Linked DNA regions of Homo sapiens. The protein of the gene in region 1 purifies or fractionates together with the protein of each later gene. This does not show direct contact. Each region holds a gene or a part of one and is shown on either strand. Other genes may lie near its edges.

Region 1 (3,500 bases):
TACCCAAGAGATGCACATATCATGGGCCTAGCAGGACAGTCAGCTCTTTGCAAACTGGTCCACGGTATCAGGCAGGAAAGGGTGTCCCTCACAGCTCTTGAGCCACCCCCAGCAGCTGGGATGGATGCTGACCCCTATGTAGATACTACCAGGTGTCCCACATGTTGCAGGGCATTTCTGAGCCTTTGTGGCATGGGGCTAGCCCGGCATGGGGCTGATTAAGTTACGGTTGAGGAGGTGAAGACCTCTAGAGAGACTGTCCTGGTCTGGGCCCTGTCCACTCTGTCAACAGCTCTCAGTAGCCACGCATTGTCATGACCCAAGGTGCAAGGCCTGTCTTGGGGTAGCTGCTCCTAGCAGCATCTGTGGGACAAATAACGTTTTCTTTTCCTGATACATGTGTACTGAAGAGAATTAGGAAATAGGGAAAGAAGGAAGAAAATAAAAATCACTGAAATTATCTATGATCTCACTGCTAGAGATGATTAGTAGGTTAGTAGATTCCAGGTTTATTAATTAATTATAAAGTCATTTATGTACTTTTTAGGAAGCTTAGCATTCTTTCATGAATATTTTTCATGTGATTTAAATATTCTCCAAAAATCCTACTTCTAGATTGTATAATATTCTATTCTATGGTTATATTGTTATTTTTTTAAAACCAGTTTTAGGACATTGAGGCTGTTACCGGTTTTCTCTGTTATAAATATGATTGCATTGAACGTCTTTAAACTTTTTTTTTAGAAATTTATTACATAACTTGATAATTTAAAAAAATGGAGATGGGGTCTTGCTCTGTTGTCCAGGCTGGAGTGCAGTGGTGTGATCTCGGCTCATTGCAACCGCCATTTCTCAGGCTTGTGGCATCCTCTGCCCTCAGCCTCCTAAGTATCTGGGACTACAGATGCTGCCATGCCTTGCTTTTTTTTTTTTTTTTTTTTTGTAGAGACCGGGTTTCGCCATGTTGCCCAGGCTGGTCTCAAATTCCCGGGCTGAAGCAATCTTCCCGCCTTGGCCTCCCAGGGTGCTAGGATTACAGGCGTGAGCCCCTGTGCTTGGCCTGAACATTTTTTAAAACATTGTTTGGGTAGATTCTTAAAAGGGAAATTGGGGGCTATAAGACTTTTAAGGGTCCTCCAAAAATATTGCCAGATGGGGCTTTCAGAATGGGAGAGGCAACTTAGATTCCCACAGAGAAGAGGGTGACTGCACCCTTGTCAATGCCGAATATTATTTAAAAAACCTTTGCAAATTTGGCAGTAAATGATATGGGCACATGACGTTTAAATTTTCTTTCCTATCTTTTTATTTTGAAAATCTGACTTTGTGTCATCTGGCTTATCGATGAAAAGAGTTTTGCTGTTTGCTAGAATTTTGTTAAGGCCAAACATCATAATGTCAGTGGATGATCTCAGTAGGTGGGGTAAGACCTTTGTGCTTTTTAAAATTTGAATAAAATAAAATAAAATAAAATAAAATAAAATAAAATAAAATAAAATAGAATTAAATTCTACTCAGGTAGGTTCAGGGCAATAAACATTCTAATAACATGTCTTTTAAACAAATTATAGGATACGATGGGCATAGACTGCTCTTGGTCTTCCCCCAGCCTCCTCATCCTCCCTCTTTAGGGGTAGCCTTGAACTTGCAATGGAGAATGAGGGCCAGGAGGGGGTGGAGTCAGCACCTGGCTGTCTGGATAGCCCCACCATACCTTGTTCAGTCGCTTCTCTTCATTTCAAATGATCCCTATTGGACCTCACACTCTTTGCTAGTCTTGCCCCTAAGGATGCAGACAGAAAATTCATGATGGGCAGACAGAAAATTCATGATCCTCCATACTCCATTCTTGTGTCGTCTGTGGAGGACCTCCACATCCTCTGCAAATGTGCTAAAGTTTTCTGCTTTCCTCCAAGGCATCAGCCCTTCCAGAGTTGCAACAACTATGAACAGTGCCTGACCTCTTAAGCTGTTGCTCCTAAAGCTTGAGAGAGATGAAAAAATCACTTTACTAGGTGGTGATGAACTAATTAAAGACAGTCTTTCATTGAGGGGTTGGAAGCAGCTGGAATGGAGGGTGCTTACCGTGCTGGAGGGAGCAAGATGGCACCACTTTCTCTAGGGCTGGTCATGATCGGTGTGGTTTTGTTCACAGGCACCTGAGCACATCAGGTGGGGAGACCCTCATGTACTGTGCAAGGTGCTCACCTGCTCTTTGGTGTATGCTGGGGGTGCACTTCCACCTGGCATTGCCTGGTGGACAGTGAGTGGGTCCCACAGGACCTGGTGGGCCCATGTATTAGTCCGTTCTCATGCTGCTATGAAGAAATACCCGAGACTGGGTAATTTATAAAGGAAAGAGGTTTAATTGACTCACAGTTCCACGTGGCTGAGGAGGCCTTGGGACACTTACAGTCATGGCGGAAGTGGAAGCAAACATGTCCTACTTCACTTGGCAGCAAGAGAGTGAAGTGCAGAGTGAAGGAAGGAAAAGCCCTTTATAAAACCATCAGATCTCGTGAGAACTCACTATCATGAGAACAGCACGGGGGAACCACTCTCATGATCTATTCCCTTCCCATGAGGTCCCTCCCCCAACACATGGGGATTACAATTTGGATTACAATTCAAGGTGAGATTTGAGTGGGGACACAGAGCCTGAACGTATCAGCACAGTTCTGTGTTTTGTACCAAAGCTTTCAAGGAGGTGCCTAGGTGCGTGAGCCCAGGTACTGCAGGTGCAGACGGCAGAAGCTCAGCTGGTGATGCTGTGCCCCATCTCCCTGGGTTGAGACTGCAGACTGGGTCCTTCTCAGCTCTGCTTGGCCTGCCATCAGCACCACACTCTGTCCCAGGTGCACACCTGCCCTCACCTGTGGCAGTGCTGAGGCCTTGGAGATGGATTCCAAAAGGCTGGAGATGGTATGAGGCCTGCGGAGTGGAGATGGAGTGTGCTGAAGGCTGCTAATGGGGTGGCAGTCCTCCAGTGGTCTGGCCGGTGGGGTCCCTCAGTGTCTTTTGGGGAGTACGCCTCTGCCACAGTCCTTGGCGGTTCTCCATTTTCCTCAGTGAGGTGGTGGCTCTGATGTCACTGTGAGGGTGCTTGCCATTGACCCAGAGGGCTTTGGGTGCCTGACAAATCCACCTTGTGTTTGTTACTGGCTGAGGTGTGCAGAGCTGACCGATTTCTGTCTGATTTGACCTTGCTGTTTGGCTTGCTCCTGCAACACAGTCCCTGCTTTCCTAGTGGGGACGGGAGGCCTTCTGGATACAATGTGTGCAGGACTTGAGGAAATGTCGGCAGTTGGTTGGCTCGGTTGAACATTTGTTTTTCTGCTACTTTGGCTATGAAGATAAATCTTGACCCCTAGGCCAGGCACAAGGCTGGAGTTTGAGACCAGCCTGGGCAGCATAGTAAGACCCTATCTCTACAAAAAAAATGTTAAAAAATTGTGCCCCTAAAACACTTAGCTTTCCTTCTATTGGGTTTGAATATGACA
Region 2 (3,500 bases), on another chromosome or scaffold:
TGCTAAAGGGTGTGATCTGCTAAGACTCGGACCCCAGTACGGGGTGTGCTGGTGGTGAGCCGGTGGCCAGGGCATCTGAGCCATCTCTCTGACCTCCAGGTGGGCTATGCCATCCGCTTTGAAGACTGCACTTCAGAGAACACCTTGATCAAATACATGACTGACGGGATCCTGCTCCGAGAGTCCCTCCGGGAAGCCGACCTGGATCACTACAGTGCCATCATCATGGACGAGGCCCACGAGCGCTCCCTCAACACTGACGTGCTCTTTGGGCTGCTCCGGGAGGTGAGGGCTGTGTGGTTTGGTCTCTCTGCGCATGGGGTGTTGACCAGTGCACCACCAGTAGCTAGTGGGTTGCTCCAGGTGGGCTGAGGGGGTCTCTGGTAGGCCAGAGGTTCCTGAGGCCTCTGGTTGCAGTTCAGACTCGGGTTGTAGTTCATGCTGTTCTTGCTCTGCTGAGGGTGGCTTGGGGTTTTCTGGGCAGTGGCTCCATTGCTTCAGTCTTCATGATTGGTAAGAATTGAATAGGCCCATTTGTCAGCTTTGGCTTGTGTTTCCTCGGGGGTGGTGCTGATGGGACTGGGGGACAGGAGCCAAGGGTCCCCACCATGGGGGCCTCCGAGCCGCCTCTTCTCTCAGGTAGTGGCTCGGCGCTCAGACCTGAAGCTCATCGTCACATCAGCCACGATGGATGCGGAGAAGTTTGCTGCCTTTTTTGGGAATGTCCCCATCTTCCACATCCCTGGCCGTACCTTCCCTGTTGACATCCTCTTCAGCAAGGTATTGAGGCCACCATGTTACGAACTGACCCTTCCATGCCACGCACTTCTCTGATGCGAAGCCGGCTGGAGGGTGGAGGGTGGGTAGGGGACTGGGTTGGAGAAGATTTCCTGGGGACCATGGGGCAAATGGGGCAGCCTGCAGCTCTGGGACTCGGGGACAAAGGACTCTGCTCTGGGTGAGGTTTTGTTTCATTATTTCTTTGAGGCTGAAGTACAGGGCCCAGGGAGGCACTGTGCCCTCTTGTAGAGGCCTCGCAGTCAGGCCCATGTGGAGGTGTGGTGGCCCTCAAAGTCCATGGCTCCATTCCAGAGCAGTGCCTGGGCCACTGGGCTCCCAGGAGATGCCCGGCCTGCGCTTCTAGTACCTCCCTCTGACTGTGTCCCCACTGCTGTTGCAGACCCCACAGGAGGATTACGTGGAGGCTGCAGTGAAGCAGTCCTTGCAGGTGCACCTGTCGGGGGCCCCTGGAGACATCCTTATCTTCATGCCTGGCCAAGAGGACATTGAGGTGCGTGCCTTGGTCACGACTGTGATGAGCGGGTGTGTCTTGCATATGAGAGGTTAGGGTTCCAGTGTCTCACAGCTCCTCCCTGGGCTCTCAGGTGACCTCAGACCAGATTGTGGAGCATCTGGAGGAACTGGAGAACGCGCCTGCCCTGGCTGTGCTGCCCATCTACTCTCAGCTGCCTTCTGACCTCCAGGCCAAAATCTTCCAGAAGGTGTGTCAGCAGGAATGTCCAGGAGTGGCTCTTGGAGTTCTCTAAAGGAAGCGAGAGGGGATGTGACTGTCCTGGCAGGGGGTGGGCTAGGAGGTAGGCTTTTCCCCCTCGCGGAGCCTTTCCTGTCTCGAGGGACTCATTTTTCCCTTCCTGTATGTCCTGCTCTAGGCTCCAGATGGCGTTCGGAAGTGCATCGTTGCCACCAATATTGCCGAGACGTCTCTCACTGTTGACGGCATCATGTTTGTTATCGATTCTGGTTATTGCAAATTAAAGGTAAGAGAAGACATGGGAGGCAAGGCCTGGGTGTTCACCAGAAGCTAACTTAGCTGCGGGGTGGGAAGCCAGGGCCTCGCTCCTGGCCCTGGGATGTGGGGAGCGCGTGGAAGTGGTGGTGGTGGTGGGAGGCTCACATTGACTCACTGTGCTTGGTTTGTTTAACCCTTGTAATACTCGATGAGGTAGATAATTTAACAGTAGAGCTCAGAGAGCTGGTGTTTGTGGGGAAGACTTCTTCAGGTGTTCATGAGAACATTTCTAGAGCCTCCTGGCTCTTCCTCTGCCATGTGTAGCAACCAGGGCTTGCCTTTGTCTCAGGCCTACTTCCACTTTCCCCTCACTCTGTCCTTCGTCAGCTCTTTGCCGTCCCCTCCTAGGTCTTCAACCCCAGGATTGGCATGGATGCTCTGCAGATCTATCCCATTAGCCAGGCCAATGCCAACCAGCGGTCAGGGCGAGCCGGCAGGACGGGCCCAGGTCAGTGTTTCAGGTAGGAGCCCTGTGCTAGCCTGCTTTCTGGGGCAGCGCTGGGGTTGCTGAGCGTGGAGCCCGGGCGGGGGCGGGCAGGATGCTGGCTCTAGAGCTGGTCCCCAAGGCTGGAAGCTGCTGGCAGGGCTGCCACTTGTTAGTCCTTTCATCCTATGCTACTGAGTGGAAGGAAGGAGTGGCTTTCCAGGGATTTCAGAGGTCTGAGGCCAACCTACGTGGATGTAGGTACACATGCAGGTAATTACAGCCTGCCTCCCTTCAGAGGGTAGGTCTGGACAGATGATGCCATTGGTTCTTTTTATTTCTATTGTTCTCTTTCCCCATTTTCTTTCTTTCTTTTTTCCAATTAGAGACAGGGTCTTGCTCTGTCACCCCAGGCTGGAGTGTGGTGGTGCAATCACAGCTCACTGCAGCCTTGATCTCCTGCACTCAAGTGAACCTCCCACCTCAGACTCCCAAGGGGCTGAGATTGCAGGCAGGCACCACCACACCTGGCTAATTTGTTCATATTTTGTAGAGATGGGGTCTTGCTATGTTGCCCAGGCTGGTATTGTGAACTCCTGGCTTCAAGCGATTCTTCTGTCTTGGCCTCCCAAACTGTTGGCATTATAGGTGTGAGCCACTCTGCCTGGCTCTCTTCCCCTTTTTTGTTCCAATTAAAAAAATTAATGTATTCACTATAGAGCGTTAGTGAATATAGAAAAATATCAAGAAAATAAAACCCAGCCATGATTCTAGTCCCAGGCCCATTGGTTCTAGAAATGAAACAGATGGCTGGGTGTGGTGGCTCATGCCTGTAATCCTGGCACTTTGGGAGGCCGAGGCGGGCCGATCACAAGGTCAGGAGTTTGAGACCACCATGGCCAATATGGTGAAACCCCATCTCTACTAAAAATACAAAAATCAGCTGGGCGTGGTGGCGGATGCCTGTAGTCCCAGCTACTCGGGAGGCTGAGGCAGGAGAATCGCTTAAATCCGGGAGGCAGAGGTTGGGCAACAGAGTGAGACTCTGTCTAAAAAAAAAAGAAATGAAACATGTAAGAGGCTCCAGAAGAAGGGCTAAATTGGCAGATTGGAGTTTTGAATAGGTGGAAGTCAGTGATTCACTGAAGTAGTGGGTGGGGAGAAGAAATGAGAATTTCCTCCCTCCCTGTGGGATTTCATCTGTACTGGCTGCTGTGGGGTTTCCTTGTGGTGAGAAGATGGGGTCTTCTCCCCGGCAGGCTCTAC
Region 3 (3,500 bases), on another chromosome or scaffold:
TCATTTTATGCAGTTGCCCACTGCTTTTTGGTTGTTTTCAGAAAAGCAAAGGAGAAATAATGACTTATTTTGCAAACTTTTTTTTTTTTTAACTTTTTTAGAGACAAAGTGTTGCTCTGTAGCCCAGGCTGGAATCCAGCAGTACAGTCATAGCTCACTGAGCCTTGACCTCCTGGGCTCCAAGCATGGTTGAGGAATAGCTGGGACCACAGGCACACACCACCATGCCCGGCTAATTTTAAGATATTTTAAATTTTTTTGTAGAGATGGCAGTCTCACTGTGTTGCCCAGGCTGGTCTTGAACTCCTGGGCTCAAGCGATCCTCTTGCCTTGGCTTCCCAAAGGGCTGGGATTATAGTCATGAGCCACTACACCTGGCCCACTTGCTCACTTCTAAAATAAGGTTTTAAATTTTTCATTAAGAAGTTGTATACTAAGCACATCATGAATGTATAACACAGCTGTTACGCATGTGGACACCTGTGTAGCCTTCACCTAGAGGGAGGTAGAGGATGCATTCAGCCTTCCAGGTTTCCTCAGGAGACCTGTCTCCCACAGCACCGTGTCTGATTTCTGTCTGCCAAGACTGTTCTTGAGCTTTATATATGTGGAGTCACACGCGTGGTCTTTTGTGTCTGGCTTCTTTTGCTCACCATCACCATCAGGTCAGCAAGGTTGACCGTGCTGTTGCATAAAGCAGTTGTTCATTTATTTTGAGAAAGTCTCACTGTTGCCCAGGCTGGAGTGCGTTGACATGTTCTCGGCTCACTGTAGCCTCTGCCTCCCGGGCTTAAGCAATCCTCCTGCCACAGCCTCCCAAGTAGCAGGGATGACACGCATGTGCCACCACGCCTAGCTAATTTTTTGTTATTTTATTTATTTATTTTTTTAGAGCTGGGGTTTTGCCATGTCACCCACGATGGTCTTGAACTCCTGGACTCAAGCGATCCACCGACTTTAGCCTCTCAAAGCACTGGGGTTACAGGATTTTGCCACTGCACCCGATTTTATATATTTATTTAATTATTGTTTCTTATTTATTTATTTATGAGACGGAGTCTCGCTGTGTTGCCCAGGCTGGAGTGCAGTGGCACCACCTCGGCTCACTGCAACTTCTGCCTCCCAGGTTCAAGCAATTCTCCTGCCTTAGCCTCCCGAGTAGCTGGGATTACAGGTACTTGCCACCACGCCTGGCTAATTTTTGTATTTTTAGTAGAGATGGGGTTTCACCATATTGGCCAGGCTGGTCTCGAACTTCTGACCTCGTGATCCGCCCGCCTTGGCCTCCCAAAGTGCTGGGATTACAGGTGTGAGCCACCGCGCCCAGCCTGTTTTTTGTTTTTTCTTGAAATGGAGTTTCGCTCTTGTTGCCCAAGCTGGAGTGCAGTGGTGCTATCTTGGCTCACTGCAACCTCTGCCTCCCAAGATCAAGCGATTCTCCTGCCTCAGCCTCCTGAGTAGCTGGGATTACAGGCGCATGCCACAATGCCTGGCTAATTTTTTGTATTTTTAGTAGAGATGGTGTTTCACCATGTTGGCCAGGCTGGTCTCAAACTCCTGACCTTGTGATCTGCCCGCCTTGGCCTCTCAAAATGGTAAGATTATAGGTGGGAGCCACCATGCCCGGCCTTATTTATTTATTTTTAAATGGAGTCTCACTCTGTCTCCCAGGCTGGAGTACAGTGGCGTGCTCTTGGCTCACTATCACCTCTGCCTCCCTGATCCACGGGATCCTCCCACCTCAGCCTCCTGAGTAGCTGGGATTACAGGTGTGCACCGCCACACCTGGCCAGTTGTTTTGTGTTTTTAGTAGAAACAGGTTTCATCATGTTGGCCAGGCTGGTCTCGAACCCCTGACCTCGGGTGGTCCACCTGCCTCAGCCTCCCATAGTGCCGGGATTATAGGCGTGAGCCACCACACCTGGCCTCATTTCTCTTTTATTTCAGTGTATGTGGTAGTCCCGCTGTGTGAGCGTGCCATAGTTGATGTATGCATTTCACTGTGCGTGGGTATTCGCACTATTTCCTGCTTCACAATCTTTTTAGCTGCGATACCAAAGTCCAGAGAGCTCTGGAAACGAAAGTGTTTCATGATCCGTTCGGCACAAAGTCTGACCCAGACTGAAGTGAGGTCGTTCACATGGTGTCTGTTGGTCCCACAGTAGTGTGGCTGTTGGCACGACTCTGCCCAGCGCGTTCTCTTATGTGTTGTATGTGCGTTATTTTCCTGGTCTGAACTCAGGAAAATTCTGAATTCCAAAACACAAGGGCCCCAGGAGTTGTGGACCTGGGACTGCCTCTTGGCTTGGGGTGTGATCAGGCATAGCAATGGCTTACCTGCTTTCCTTTCTTTCGTGTAAATACCTTGAGGGCCGGTTAAAGACTAATCTCTGATTACACTGTAAATACTGTTAACACACCTTTGAAAGGCCTTGCCAGAGCTAGGTCCAGCTGCCTCAGAGGGTGAGGAGATATGAATGGCCCTGGCATCTTTCCTGGCAGATTTCTCCTTGGTTCAGACGGAGCTTAGCTGTGATAGCTGACTCTTCCCCTAGGAGCCCTGGGTGGGTTTCTGTGGCTCTGTGAAGGCCCTGGAATCCCCTGCAGAATCAAAGTTGTGCCTTTTTTTGAGGTCAGTGACCAAGACACCCCCTGCAGAGCCTTAAGGGGGCCATGACTCCTCAAGCCCAGGACTTGAGCCTGAGCTAGGGAGAGCCTCAGAGACCTTGGTCCCCCCGCCCCCACTATTAATTTCAACTTGTTGAAAGGGAGTTTGTTTTCGTATTATAAAATACAAACATACCAAAGGGTGCAGATTGAACGATAATGTTCCCTCCGCCCTGTCCTTTTGCTCCTGGTGGTGTGGAACCTGGGTGCCCCTCCCAAGAGAGCCCGGGCCTACACAGGCCCTTGCGTGGATCTCTTCCCTTCTTGCAGAGGTGATAAACTACTGCTCCAGGCTGTTAGTACCAGCGTGAGGTTTTACAGTCAGAAATACACATTTCAAACTAGTACTAAGACCCCCTTCATTGTGATTTAACTAATGTGGTTTTCTTGGCCATGTTACTTTAGATTTTAGTTGTAAAGAAATAGACAGGGCTCCAGGATGCCAGGCGATGCCCATGGCGGCTGTGGTGCCTGTAGCTGCCATTTCCTCTTTTATTTGGATTGAGATGGAGCTCCTACACTGTGCAGCCCCCTTCATATCGCACAGTTCAGTGGCCTTCGGCCCATTCACAGTGCTGGGCGACCACCTCTGTCCAGCTCCAGAACGTCTTCATTGCCCCAGAAGGAAAACCCATAGCCTTCAGGTGGTCCCTCTCCATCCCTCCCTCCACCCCTGGCAACCCACAATCCACTCCGTCTCTCTGGATTTGCCCATTCTGGATGATTCACGTCGATGGAACCGTAGGCTGTGTGGCGTTCTGTGCTGGCGTCTGTCGCTGAGCGCAGTACCTCCGCGGCTGGTCCCCGTCACAGCGTGGGTCTGTGTTCATTCC
Region 4 (3,500 bases), on another chromosome or scaffold:
AATTCAGATTGGATGTGTGCTATAGCTTCTTCTGGCTGTTTTCTCTTTACCTTTTCTCCCCATTTGTATTTCAATTTTTGTCTTTCTGTTCCATTATGAGAAGTTTCTTTACCTCTGTTGTCAAGTTCACCCATTCTCTTTATAATTGTATCTAACTGGATGTCAAATCTATAAATAAAGTTTCTAATTTAGTTATGTTACATTTTTATTTTTGAGATGTATTTTTTATGTTATCTGGATCTATTTCAATAGTTTCTTGTGTATTATACTTTCAATTCCCTCTTATTTTTAAAAACATATTAAACATAATTGCCTTATATTTTGTATCTGCTCACTTAAATATCTGCTGTCTTTATAGATCTGATACTGTACTTTATTTCCTTCAGTTAGCTTTCATTCATAGAGCTTATTTTCTCATATGTTTAGTGATTTTTGTTTGTGTCTGTGAGATCATGTTCTATCAATGCATTATAAGTGGGAATTCTTTGAGCTCTGAGTTTTAGAAATATCTCTCCAGAGTTTTGAGTTTGCTTCTGCTAGCCTGGGACCAATTTAAAGTAAAATTTCAGCATATGGCTTTTTAGGCCACACAGATAATGTAAATTCTGGCCCCAAACCTGTGTGAATGGGGACTTTTGGTTAGGAATTATTCAGGAGAAACTTTTTTACTCAAGTCACCTGAGCCAACATCAAAACACTGTTTACCTCTGTGAAGTTTACTTCTTCCCAGTTCACCCATTGAGTTTCTTCTGTTTTCCATTTGTGACTGTTGAAACCCCAAACTGTAGGCCACCAGGGATCAGCATATACCCTCCGAACAAATAATGCTTCAGTGCTCTCTTACCCCAGTGGGCTCACTTGGCATCGCTGTTGCATGTCTCCATGGAATTCCTTTACTTCCTTGCTAGCTTTGTCTTACATCGTGTGTGTGTGTGTGTGTGTGTGTGTGTGTGTGTGTGTGTGTGTATCCAGCATTTTTAGTTATGTTAAATTAGTAGAGGTTTCTGTCAGCATCTGGTAAGACACATTGCAAAAACAAAACAAAACAAAACCATAAACTAATTTAAATGTATTTTACTATAAGAATCAATAAACTCATATACAACTTATCTCATAAAACTTGCAGTATCTCTGTGCAAATTAACTTTTAAATATGCAGTTAGTTACATGCCCCCCAAAATCAAAACATATGTACAGTAAGAGAAAAAGATAATTTGGTAATATTGAATATTAGTTCATAAAAACTGAAAATAGGGACCAGTAATGTAAAACTGAAGAAATGTGTAAATGCTCCTTTTGATATCTCTGTGCAGGAAAGTGTTCAGGATTTAAAAAAGAGAATCATGGTACTCGACTGCCAATTACGAAAATCAGAAATGGCTCGAAAAACTTTTGAGGCATCCACTGAAAAGCTTCTTCATTTTGTAGAGGTAAGTTTTTCTGTTCTATTACATTCATCTTTAAAAAATATATAGGCAACTGGCATATAGATAAATGTTACTGTATTTGGTACCTAGTGAAACATTCTCTAGTCTCAAAGCAGCAATGCTGGCTTATGGTCAGATTTAGAACTGCATACATGATGAAAAGACTGGCTAACATTTTATAGATTGTTTAGAGAAATAATTGAGACAAGGTGATGGGATTCCAAGTATATACTATTTTAATGAATACTTTACCAAAAATCCTGATAATGCATAAACATTATTTGATAACTACTTACCTTATAAAGAAATGTTTTCATAGCTGTTATATTTCTGAGTAAAACTGCATGTTAGTTCAATTGTTTGCACCCCCGCTACATAATAGAAGCATCAGTTTAATCCGTGGACAGAGGAGGTTATAAATATTAATGAAGAAAAGATATTTTTTAAAAACTGTCAAACTGATATATCTCCTTCACCATCTTGTTTGTTGCTAGGCTATTCAAGAAGTATTTTCTGATAATTCTACTCCTTTATCAAATTTAAGGTAAGAAAATTTAAGTGCTTTTTGCAGAATATGGGTAGTGATTAAATTCTTCATCTGGTCATTGTGACTCAAATACTAAAAATCTCTTAAATAGTCCTAAGGTGCTACATAACTCCCATTGGATGCCATCATATGGAAATAGATGCAAGGACATATTGTTTTGTGTCCCATCTCTGTTAAAGAAATTCCTGGAGGTATTTAGTCAATCATTGTAACCTTGTAATCTAAAATTATGGTAGAAACCACCTATCCTGTCTTTATCAAAAATTCTATAAAGATGAGATTAACTTAAAATTCTGTAATTGTCTTGCGTATGAATCAAAGTTACTGGTCACAGGTTCACTACTAAAAGTGTCTCAACCCAGCAGGTTAGTTGTTCTGGCAAACAGAATTTTGGAAAACATATTCATGCAATCATTTTCTTTCGTTTTCATCTTTCAGTAGCTATAAATAAAAGAAATATATTTGGAGAATATACCTCGATTGTCTCATTATTCATAATATGTTTTGGATTTAAAGTTTCTTACTAGAAGCTGGAAACATACTAATCAAATTTATTTATTTCAAACCACAAGTTTATGGTCATTTTGATACATGATGAAAGACATTTACAAAAGAAAGATTCTTGTTTATGCATTTCCAAAGTAATTTTTTTCTGCTCTCATAATAGCTGCCACTAGTCCTAGATACATCTTCTACTTCTAGCAATATACGCTTGCAGAAACAGGAAGACTCAATGAGGTTGGGTGTGATGGTGCATACCTGTAATCCCAGTATTTTGGGAGGCTGAGGCAGGGGGATCACTTGAGCCCAGGAGTTTGAGACAAGGAACATAGTGGCACACAGTGGGACCCTATCTCTACAAAAAAAAAAAAAAAAAGAAATAGCCAGATGGGATGGTGCATTCCTATATTCCCAGCTACTTGGGAGGTTGAGGCAGGAGGATTGCTGGAGCCCAGGAGCTCTAGGAGATTGAGGCTGCAATGAGCTGTGATCATACCACTGCCCTCCAGCCTGGATAACATAGTGATGCCCTGTCTCAAAAAGTAAATAAATACTCTACCCTTTACTGTGAAAACAGCAGCTTAATAAGTGAAGATATTTTTGGTGTCCACATAGCATTTTTTAATTTAGAAGAATATTTATAATTCACTTCTAAACTCAAGTAATGTTTTACTTCTTATGATGAAGGAACCTGACATAACTTCTTACTCTCCTTGCTGCTTATGATACAAGAAAACTCTGTGAATTTCATGATTATTACTCTCAGTAAGGATCTTAAAATAATCAGTAATCACATTTATTTCTTTATGGGCTAAGTGTGTCACCCACCCTCAGCTTTCCAAGGTCTTAGTTTTACCTTGACTAATAATTCAAAAGTTTTGTTTTAAAAATTAAGGTTAAAATGACTATTTAAAAGCCAGAGCCTGCCCTTGCCTTAAACTGCTTCATGGAAAAAAAGACAACTTTAAATAGCTACATCACGCAACATTTCATGGTGTCTTAGTAAATTAAACACTAGTAAAAAC
Region 5 (3,500 bases), on another chromosome or scaffold:
CAGCAGAGTAAATTGCCCCTTACCTGGGCCTAAATAGGAAGAGTGACCACCTTTGGATATTCAGGAGTTAACAAACCCAGGGTACCCAGTAATAACAAACACATAGCCCCAAACCAGTTGTTACTCAGATGACTCTGTATTTATTCCATTTATTAGTTTGTGACATGAAAATAAAAAGATAAATCACTGGCTGATAGTGTTTTAATGTTTCTTTCTAGAAAACACTGGCATTATGAGACAACCTATATCCCAACAAGCCCCGACTTAAAAATTGTTCTTTGATAAGCCATGATTTAGTGTTTGGAGTTCCTCAGAAGTCCATTAAGTAAAGCATTATGTGCAGAAAAAAATAGGATGAGCTTCAGTATTTTGTCTGTTTAGAAAGAGCCTTTGGTCAATATTATGAAGTAGGTCTATTATGACCATAACAAAGACATCCCGAACCCAAAACTTAATTGAAATCAGGGGAGGCCTAAAGACAATCAGACAGTGGCACAAAAATTACATTTATTATGCTTTGCATTTACTTTCAGGGCTTTTCTTTTTTTTGCTTTTCACCCACTTAACAAATATTTTTTGAGCCCCTGCCATGTGAAAGGTGCTGCAGTTGATACAAAGCATGTCATACATCGCCCCTGCCTTTAAATAGCTTATGTCCAGCTGGGGGCATAAGGTAGGACCACTAAATAATGGTTCAAGACAGCCAGTGACACTTCAATGCGAAGGTGAGATGGTTAGAGTTACAGGCAGACAGCCAACAGAAGCCTGGGATTTTACAGGCCAAGGAATCGAAGGAGGATTGGAAATGAGAGTGCATGTGTGCCCAGGGGGGAAAGGTGCAAATATCTCAGGGCAGGGAGGCAGCCAGTACAGGTGGAGCCAAACGTTTCAGAAACCACGGATGCAGGGGGCTTTATGGGGAGAGCATGTGCTGAGGGCAGAGGGAAGCTGCGGTGCAAAGTGGATTCACTTTTGTTGTGGGTGCACTCTGGGGTTCTGCCATGGCTCAGGCTGCATGGCCACTGCTTCCATGGCCATCACCCCAACACTCTGCTCCTAACCACGGTGGGACACCTCCGGAGGAGGCAGCACTGCAGAAGTGGCCCCCAGGGGCTGTGGAAGCAGAAGGCTTTGGAGGAGGAGCTGCTCTGCGCCGCCACCAGGGGGCAGTCTATCATCCCATCAAAGAGGGTGGGAGGAAAAACGCCTCCATGGCTTGCTGTTGTTGCCTCTTGGAGAGGTGTAAGCTCAATCACACTCGATCTGTGCTCTCCATTTCCCTGGGTGGCAAGAACACTGGGAAAATCATAGCTAACCTTCTTTTGGTCGGGGACACCCTTTTCCACCTCAGGTACTTGCTTTCAGCTGGGGATGTGCCTTTCCACAGTGGGAGGCTTGGAGGGCGGGACAGTGCTAAGAAGATAGGAGCCGGCAGCTTGGACTTAGGAGAGAACTCAGCATGGGAGGGCAGAGGGGCTCTGCGGCTGCAGCGAGCTGGAGAGAGAAGTTCTGTTCCTTACGTACGAACTGGTATCTATCTAATGCATGCTGGGCGGCAGTGCACTGGGTGCTGGGGTAGAAAGAATCCCACACAGCCCCTGTTTTTGTTCTCCAGCCCACCCCCTGGCAGAGGTGCTAACAGCTGTGAGAGCAGCCAGTAGGGCAGAGAAGGAGAGAAATGAAAAGCATGGCCCACAATAAACTACAGAATCAGTCCTAGGAACCCTGAGAGAAGCCTGTTGTGTGGGGATGGCCCTCGGACTTTGGAGAGACACAGGTGTGAGTCTGAATTCCGGCCGGATCTCTGCCACCCACAAGCCTTGGGTTTACATAATTATTGATCCTTTTGAAGCCTTGTTTCCTCGTGCAGGAATGGTGATAATGCTGTCACAGAAGCATTATGAGGACTAAATGAAATAAAAAAGATCACAAGGAATACCATTTTCTTTTGTGTTCCTACTACGTGCCAGTGGCCGTGCTAGGTTCTTTATGTACACTTTTTGTCTGTTTAATCCTCACAACCATGAATGGCAAGTGCAAACACTGCATGTGACACGTGACTGCAGCTCCATAAACTCAGCTCCCTTTGGCTGGAGAGTTAGTGGCAGGTCTCTGTGCACCCTGCTGCCTACACACCATAAGGTTCCAATTAATAATAAATGTCTTTATGATAATTATCCGTGATTCCAAAGTCCTTCTGATAATCCAAAGAACTTTAAATTAAGACACTTGGAAATTCTGCATATTTTTTTCTCATTCTTTTGCTATCTTTGTAAGGGTTACATTGTATATAAGTATATGTTTATCAATAGAAAGCTTTATTTAGTGTTTTCAAATGTAGTCCCTGTTACCTAAAGAAATACATATTATACATAGGGCTGTTATCTGGTCATAGTCCACTTTAATGAGAACCATGAGTGGACATGAATGTAAAAGAGACAAAACAGAAACCCATTCTCATATACAATTGAATTCTGTGAGCATCTTAATTGCTGTCATTCCATGAGAATCATGCTTTCAAATTCTTATCCATGTTATCTAGCATCTGCAGATACTAGTGTCTTCTAAGTAAGAAACTCTACAGTAGTTACCCAGTATTCCATCTTGTTATGGAAATGTCACATATGATTAAATCTTACATACCAGACTGGCATATGAATGAAATAATATTCTTCATAGTAAAACAAACTTTAGTTTCTACCTGTACAGAAAAATGCCCCATTGAGGGCTTCTTTTAATACTGTTTAATATTTTTAATAGGATTTTTTACTCTCTTGGGTAAGTAACCAGTGTTACACATCAAGTGAAAAGGGATGGGTTTGTTTAATATAACAAACACTTATGTTGGCTCAGGCAACATAATTAGTAGGAAAAACAAAGGAAATATAATGATACCATTTTGACTCTCTGTGAGACTATACTATTGCAGCCTACAGGCCACCTTTGGGCACGACCTGTTGGTGGGAACCTAGTGATAGTAAGATCTCAGTCACAGGTTTACCCTATGGCGTGTCTCTCCAGGAGTCTTTGAACGGGCATCGACAGCTTTCCCAAGAAGCGCTTGATGATGGGGCGGCTCTTGGCAAACTTGTCCTTCACCTCAATTTCCAGCACGTCAGTGGGCAAGGACACAAAACTGAATTGCTGCAATGAAAGAATATGTCACATCAATTAACTGAGAGGTTGGAGGGCTGGTCAATTCCCAGTCCATCTGCCTTGATGCTGTCACTGTAAAACATCCTAGCTATAATATACCTATATATAAAGGGTCTCAGAAATGTTGTGAACCTGTTTATTCAGTAAATGAGGGGCAGCGACAAGATGCTTCTGCAGGGCTTAAAAATAGGCTTATTCTTTGAGATTCAAGCAGTAAAATCAGCATGCTTTAAAGAGAAAGAATGCCACCAAAGCCTCATCATACTTGATTGAAGGTATTATCATACTTTAAGAAAGAACAAGCACAAACTCACCTGTAATTAAGAAAATGTACTTTAAATAAA
Region 6 (2,228 bases), on another chromosome or scaffold:
GCTGTGTTACCTATGTTAGAGTGCAGTGGCACAGACACAACTCACTGCAGCCTCAACCTCCTGGGTTCAAGCAATCCTCCTGCCATAGCCTCCTCAGTAGCTGGGACCACCAGTGCACGCCACTATGCCTGGCTAATTTTTTAATTTTTTGTAGGGACAAAGTTTTGCTGTGTTGTCCCAGGTGGGTCTTAAACTCTGGGCTCAAGCTGTCCTGCCTTGGCCTCTGAAAGTGCTGGGATTATAGGCATGAGCCACTGCTCCCAGCCAAGGTTGACAGTATTTTTAAGAGTGAAAAGGAGTCCTGTGACCAAAATTTGAAGACCTCTGCCTTCAATAAAAGTGATAGATCCATATGTATACACACATGCGCGCGCGTGTGTGTGTGTATTGAGAGAGAGATTTTTGAGTCAAAGGGAGAATTAAAATAGATTTCAAATTTTGTGAAAGGAAAGTAATTACCACCCACTGATTTCTGTTTTCTCAAAGTATAAGGAGAAGTCACTGGCTAAGAGTGAAGAAAGGAAAAACTTTTGAGAGAAAGAAGGAATTGGGAGAATTGTTAGAGAATAGGCAAGTATTCATTAGAGGAACACGGCTAAGATTGCTAGGCAAAATTGGATTGCTCACTTGGATTAGAGCATGAAACAAGTTGACAGCAAAGAGCATAAGCTTCCTTTCCCCACCACAGCCCCCTCCCCACCCATAGCAACTCGAAAGCAGCAAAAGTTTTTGAAGAGTGGCATAAACTGGTATGTCTTTTTAGCAAAAAGTAAAAAAGAAACAAAACAAATAGACCCAAAGAATTCTCTGATGGTCCAGGTAAGAGATGATGGGGAAGCATATACAAAGGGATGTAGTGGCAGTAGAAATGATGAGGAGGAGCCTGGGCAACATGACAAAACTTCGTCTCTACAAAAAAAAATACAAAAGTTAGCTGGCCATGGTGGCATGCGCCTGTACTCCCAGCCACTCCAGGGACTGAGGTGGGAGGAGGGAGGATTGCTTCAGCCTGGGAGGTCGAGGTCGCAGTGAGCCGAGACAGTAGCCTAGGCGACACAGCCAGACCCTGTCTCCAAATAAATAATCAGGAGAAAAAATGGAATATTTGGTAGATAGAATGACAGAATTTGGCAAAGGCTATATGTGAAAGATGTAAGAGAACAGAAAGTGACTGGTTGTCTTGTATAGGAAGTATTAAAAAATAATTTTTTTTTCTGACCTTGTTATCATACTCTACCTTGAAGTATAAAGGGGAGGGCAGTATATGGTCTGCTTAGTTGCTGCTATTAATATCTTTAACTTCATTTAAAATACAAAGAATACAGTCTTAGAACAGCACTGTTTTATTTAGATGCCTTGTTTCAAAGGCTCTTTCCTGACTCTGACATGGGAGGGTCAAGGGCACATGGAAAGTGGTGACAGTGGTAAGAAGGCACCTGGATAATCTCTAGAAACCTTCCACATGGGAAAATGAAGGTACAGAAGGGTTCTGACTTACTCAGGGCTATCTCACTAGTCACTGCTACTGTAGGGACCAAAACCCTGAACACCCGAATCCTAATCTAGCTACTCAGTGCTGTACCTCACAAAACGAAATGTTATTCCACCTTTGTAAACTGAAAAATAATAGTTATTTTAAGCATTTTTTAGTATTTTAAAATTTTTATCAGTTAATACCAGAATGGAATTGAGTATGGCAAGATTGAAAAAGTGTCATTTTAGAAGAGTTTATATATGTGGTTAGATTATTTGAAAAGACAAAGAAACATATATATTTGTTAATTGACTGTCTCTACCCCAGAATGTAAATTCCATGAAGACAGGGATTTTAGTTTTCTTCACTGTATCACTAGCTTATCAGTTATATAAAAAATTCTCGGTAAATGACTGATGAATGAGTGACTGAGTGGATGAAAGAAATGGACTCTTATCCTAAGAGAAGTTAAGAGGACTCATGACACATGTAACAGGAATAGTAAAAAGAAAATGGATTTTTTTTTTTTTTTAAATTTGTCTTTATCCATATTGCTACACTTATTATTTGTAATTCCATTTTCCTCTTGGAGATGTTAAAATAGTTTTTATATGTAAGTCTTAAATTTAGATTACTCTAAATACTTCTGGCAAAATTTTAACATATATAGTATACATATATCCATTCAGCATTTCTATGTGCTTTGAAAAGTATTCTATTAGATTTTTTTCATTTTATTGAAAACATCTGATTT
Region 7 (3,000 bases), on another chromosome or scaffold:
AGGCTGGTCTCGACCTCTTGAGCTCAAGCAATACTCCTGCTTTGACCTCCCAAAGTGCTGGAATTACAGGCCATCATGCCAGACCTAAAACATTTTTCATCTTGTAAAATTGAAATGGTACCCATTAAAGCAGGGGTCCCCAACTCCTGGTCCCCAGCCTGTTAGGAACTGGGCTGCACAGCAGGAGGTAAGTGGAGGGTGAATGAGCATTACCTGCTGAGCTCCACCACTTGTCAGATCAGCAGAGGCATTAGATTCTCATAGGAGCAATAACTATTGTGAACTGTGCATGTGAGGGATCTAGATTGTGCATTCCTTACGAGAATCTAACCTGAGGTGGAACAGTTTCATCCTGAAACCATCCCCCTCTCCACTCCTGTCCATGGAAAAATTGTCTTCCACAAAACCATTGCCTGGTGCCAAAAAGGCTGGAGACTGCTGCTTTAAACAATGACTCCCCATGACTCCCTTTCCCCAGGTCCTGGCAAACATCATTCTACTACTGTTTCTATGATTCTTTAGTACTTCGTAAGTGTAGAATCGTACCTTATTTGTCCTTTCCTGGCTGGCTTATTTCACTTAGAATAATATCTTTAATTTTCATCCATGTTGTAGCATGTGTCAGCATTTCCTCCTTTTTAATGCTGAATAATATTTGATAGTCTGGATATACTACATTTTGTTTATACATTCATCTGTCCATGGACACTTAGATTATTTCCACCTTTTGGCTGTTTATGCTGCTATAAACATAGGTATACTGTGGTAGAATATAGATATATCTGTCCATGGCCCTGCTTTCAGTTGTTTTGGGTATATACCCAGAGGTGGAATTCCTTGATCATGTAGTAATTCTATTTTTAATTTTTTGGGGGAATCTCGCCATACTGTTTTCCATAGTGACTACACTGCGTTATATTCCTACCTGTAGTGCAGAGGGGCTCCAATTTCTCCACATCCTCACATCCTTTTCAACTCTTGTTTTCTTCTGTTTTTTTTTTTTTTTTTTTTTTTTTTGGTTGTTGTTGTTGTTGTTTTGGTGTTTTAAATAATAGCCATCCCAACAGGTGTGAAGTGGTATCTCATTGTGGTTTTTATTTGCATGGTAAAGGATGTTGAGCATTTTTTTAATGTGCTTATTGGTCATTTGTATGTCTTTGGAGAAATCTCTATCCTTTGTTCATTTTTAAATATTGTTGAGTTTTAAGTTTTTTATATATTTTGGATACCAGTCCTTTATCAGATATATGATTTACAAATATTTTTTCCCATTTTTGGGTTATTTCACTTTCTTGATGGTATCCTTTGAAGCACAGTAGTATATTTTTGTGCTTCTATAGTAGTGTATAAAGTAGTATACTACACTACTCATTTGATTCTTTGCATATTTCCTTTTCTCAAACTAACAATTCTTGCTTTTAGTTTTAATCGCCTGGACCTGCCACCATACAAGAGCTATGAGCAACTGAAGGAAAAGCTGTTGTTTGCCATAGAAGAAACAGAAGGATTTGGACAAGAGTAACTTCTGAGAACTTGCACCATGAATGGGCAAGAACTTATTTGCAATGTTTGTCCTTCTCTGCCTGTTGCACATCTTGTAAAATTGGACAATGGCTCTTTAGAGAGTTATCTGAGTGTAAGTAAATTAATGTTCTCATTTAGATTTATCTCCCAGTGATTTCTACTCAGCGTTTCCAGAAATCAGGTCTGCAAATGACTAGTCAGAACCTTGCTTAACATGAGATTTTAACACAACAATGAAATTTGCCTTGTCTTATTCCACTAGTTTATTCCTTTAACAACAATATTTTATGTGTGTCAAAAGTCTCACTTGGGAGTAGTGTTTTTTTCTTTTAGACATTCTGCAGACATGCAGGGAAGTCCTTTGGTAACTGCAATATACAAGATTTTCCTATTAAGCCTCTTGGTAAGAGGCATTTGTTAAAAGTGCAAGCTTACTCCTGCTTCTGGGGATGTGAGCAAAATTCGGGCTTGTGTTCTCCCTCTCATTTTAGTCTGACTTGACTATTGTTTTTCCTTTCTGGCGCATGAATCCATACATCATTCCTGGAAGTGAGGCAAGACTCTTGCATCTCTACAAAGTAGTTTTGTCAATTTGAATTCAGGGAAAAGTTGGTCACAGCCTGCAAATGACTTCATTTGGAAGTCTGATTGTTTCAGTTGCCTGACAAATACTACACTTTACAAACAATGTTAACACTGTGATTCCTTCATTGTTTTAAGAAGTTAACCTAGGGCCGGGCATGGTGGCTCATACCTGTAATCCTAGCACTCTGGGAGGCCGAGGCAGGAGGATCCCTTTAGCCCAGGAGTTAAAGACCAGCCTGGGCAACATAGGGAGACCCTGTCTTTTTTTTGGGCAGCGTGGTGGGGGATAAATAAATAAAAGGAAAAAAAACTTAGCCTAGAATTAGAATTAATTTAATTGAATTCATCTAAAGATGTCTCTGGTGATTTTTATATGTTCCGCTATATAATTGATGCTTTATAGTTTTATCATAATCCAACAACTTCAGTTATATTTAATTATTGTTAAGGAGTTTAAGACTAGAAAGACTAGAGTGCTTTCTAGTCCAAATAGAGGTCAGTGAAACAGCTTTTGACATCAGATTTTCATTTGAGAGGGAGAGCTGTGGTACTGGCTAAAAAGAAAGGAAGATAACATCCAGTAACCACAGGAATATATTCTCTGTGAATTAAAAGTCTTCAAAGTTATCATTTCTCTGACATATGTTGGAGTAGTCATTTCCATTCTTTACATTGTCATGAACTGGATTGATAACCCTCATCTGCAATATTTTCACCCCTAAAATTTTTAACAGGGTTTCCTTTTTTTCTCACGACTATTTAAGTTTAGATTGCTCCATTATTAACTGATTAATGCACTTTGAAGTTCTCTGGAATTAATTATTTTAACTTGGCCTAGCTTCGACTGTCAAGGTGGCTGTTATAAATTTGACTTCATTGGCAGTGGATGAA

What was found.
Region 2: the proteins of LDLRAD4 (region 1) and DHX38 purify together in Homo sapiens (affinity purification with mass spectrometry; 3 studies listed by BioGRID and IntAct, with this or other methods). This does not show direct contact.
Region 3: the proteins of LDLRAD4 (region 1) and EPN1 purify together in Homo sapiens (affinity purification with mass spectrometry; 3 studies listed by BioGRID and IntAct, with this or other methods). This does not show direct contact.
Region 4: the proteins of LDLRAD4 (region 1) and STXBP4 purify together in Homo sapiens (affinity purification with mass spectrometry; 3 studies listed by BioGRID and IntAct, with this or other methods). This does not show direct contact.
Region 5: the proteins of LDLRAD4 (region 1) and HECW1 purify together in Homo sapiens (affinity purification with mass spectrometry; 4 studies listed by BioGRID and IntAct, with this or other methods). This does not show direct contact.
Region 6: the proteins of LDLRAD4 (region 1) and WWP1 purify together in Homo sapiens (affinity purification with mass spectrometry; 4 studies listed by BioGRID and IntAct, with this or other methods). This does not show direct contact.
Region 7: the proteins of LDLRAD4 (region 1) and ITCH purify together in Homo sapiens (affinity purification with mass spectrometry; 4 studies listed by BioGRID and IntAct, with this or other methods). This does not show direct contact.

The regions. Positions count from the first base shown.
Region 1 is NC_000018.10:13,225,260-13,228,759, forward strand, and holds part of LDLRAD4 (low-density lipoprotein receptor class A domain-containing protein 4 isoform alpha 1), read left to right. Parts: intron 1-3,500. UniProt on the Homo sapiens protein: Functions as a negative regulator of TGF-beta signaling and thereby probably plays a role in cell proliferation, differentiation, apoptosis, motility, extracellular matrix production and immunosuppression.
Region 2 is NC_000016.10:72,103,847-72,107,346, forward strand, and holds part of DHX38 (pre-mRNA-splicing factor ATP-dependent RNA helicase PRP16), read left to right. Parts: intron 1-99; coding exon 100-285; intron 286-639; coding exon 640-780; intron 781-1,180; coding exon 1,181-1,291; intron 1,292-1,385; coding exon 1,386-1,502; intron 1,503-1,670; coding exon 1,671-1,778; intron 1,779-2,158; coding exon 2,159-2,271; intron 2,272-3,493; coding exon 3,494-3,500. UniProt on the Homo sapiens protein: Probable ATP-binding RNA helicase. Involved in pre-mRNA splicing as component of the spliceosome.
Region 3 is NC_000019.10:55,681,726-55,685,225, forward strand, and holds part of EPN1 (epsin-1), read left to right. Parts: intron 1-3,500. UniProt on the Homo sapiens protein: Binds to membranes enriched in phosphatidylinositol 4,5-bisphosphate (PtdIns(4,5)P2). Modifies membrane curvature and facilitates the formation of clathrin-coated invaginations. Regulates receptor-mediated endocytosis.
Region 4 is NC_000017.11:55,076,765-55,080,264, forward strand, and holds part of STXBP4 (syntaxin-binding protein 4), read left to right. Parts: intron 1-1,313; coding exon 1,314-1,430; intron 1,431-1,921; coding exon 1,922-1,971; intron 1,972-3,500. UniProt on the Homo sapiens protein: Plays a role in the translocation of transport vesicles from the cytoplasm to the plasma membrane. Inhibits the translocation of SLC2A4 from intracellular vesicles to the plasma membrane by STX4A binding and preventing the interaction between STX4A and VAMP2.
Region 5 is NC_000007.14:43,437,647-43,441,146, reverse strand, and holds part of HECW1 (E3 ubiquitin-protein ligase HECW1), read right to left. Parts: intron 3,145-3,500; coding exon 3,002-3,144; intron 1-3,001. UniProt on the Homo sapiens protein: E3 ubiquitin-protein ligase that mediates ubiquitination and subsequent degradation of DVL1. Also targets the mutant SOD1 protein involved in familial amyotrophic lateral sclerosis (FALS).
Region 6 is NC_000008.11:86,464,547-86,466,774, forward strand, and holds part of WWP1 (NEDD4-like E3 ubiquitin-protein ligase WWP1), read left to right. Parts: intron 1-2,228. UniProt on the Homo sapiens protein: E3 ubiquitin-protein ligase which accepts ubiquitin from an E2 ubiquitin-conjugating enzyme in the form of a thioester and then directly transfers the ubiquitin to targeted substrates.
Region 7 is NC_000020.11:34,506,273-34,509,272, forward strand, and holds part of ITCH (E3 ubiquitin-protein ligase Itchy homolog), read left to right. Parts: intron 1-1,422; coding exon 1,423-1,522; 3' UTR 1,523-3,000. UniProt on the Homo sapiens protein: Acts as an Acts as an E3 ubiquitin-protein ligase which accepts ubiquitin from an E2 ubiquitin-conjugating enzyme in the form of a thioester and then directly transfers the ubiquitin to targeted substrates.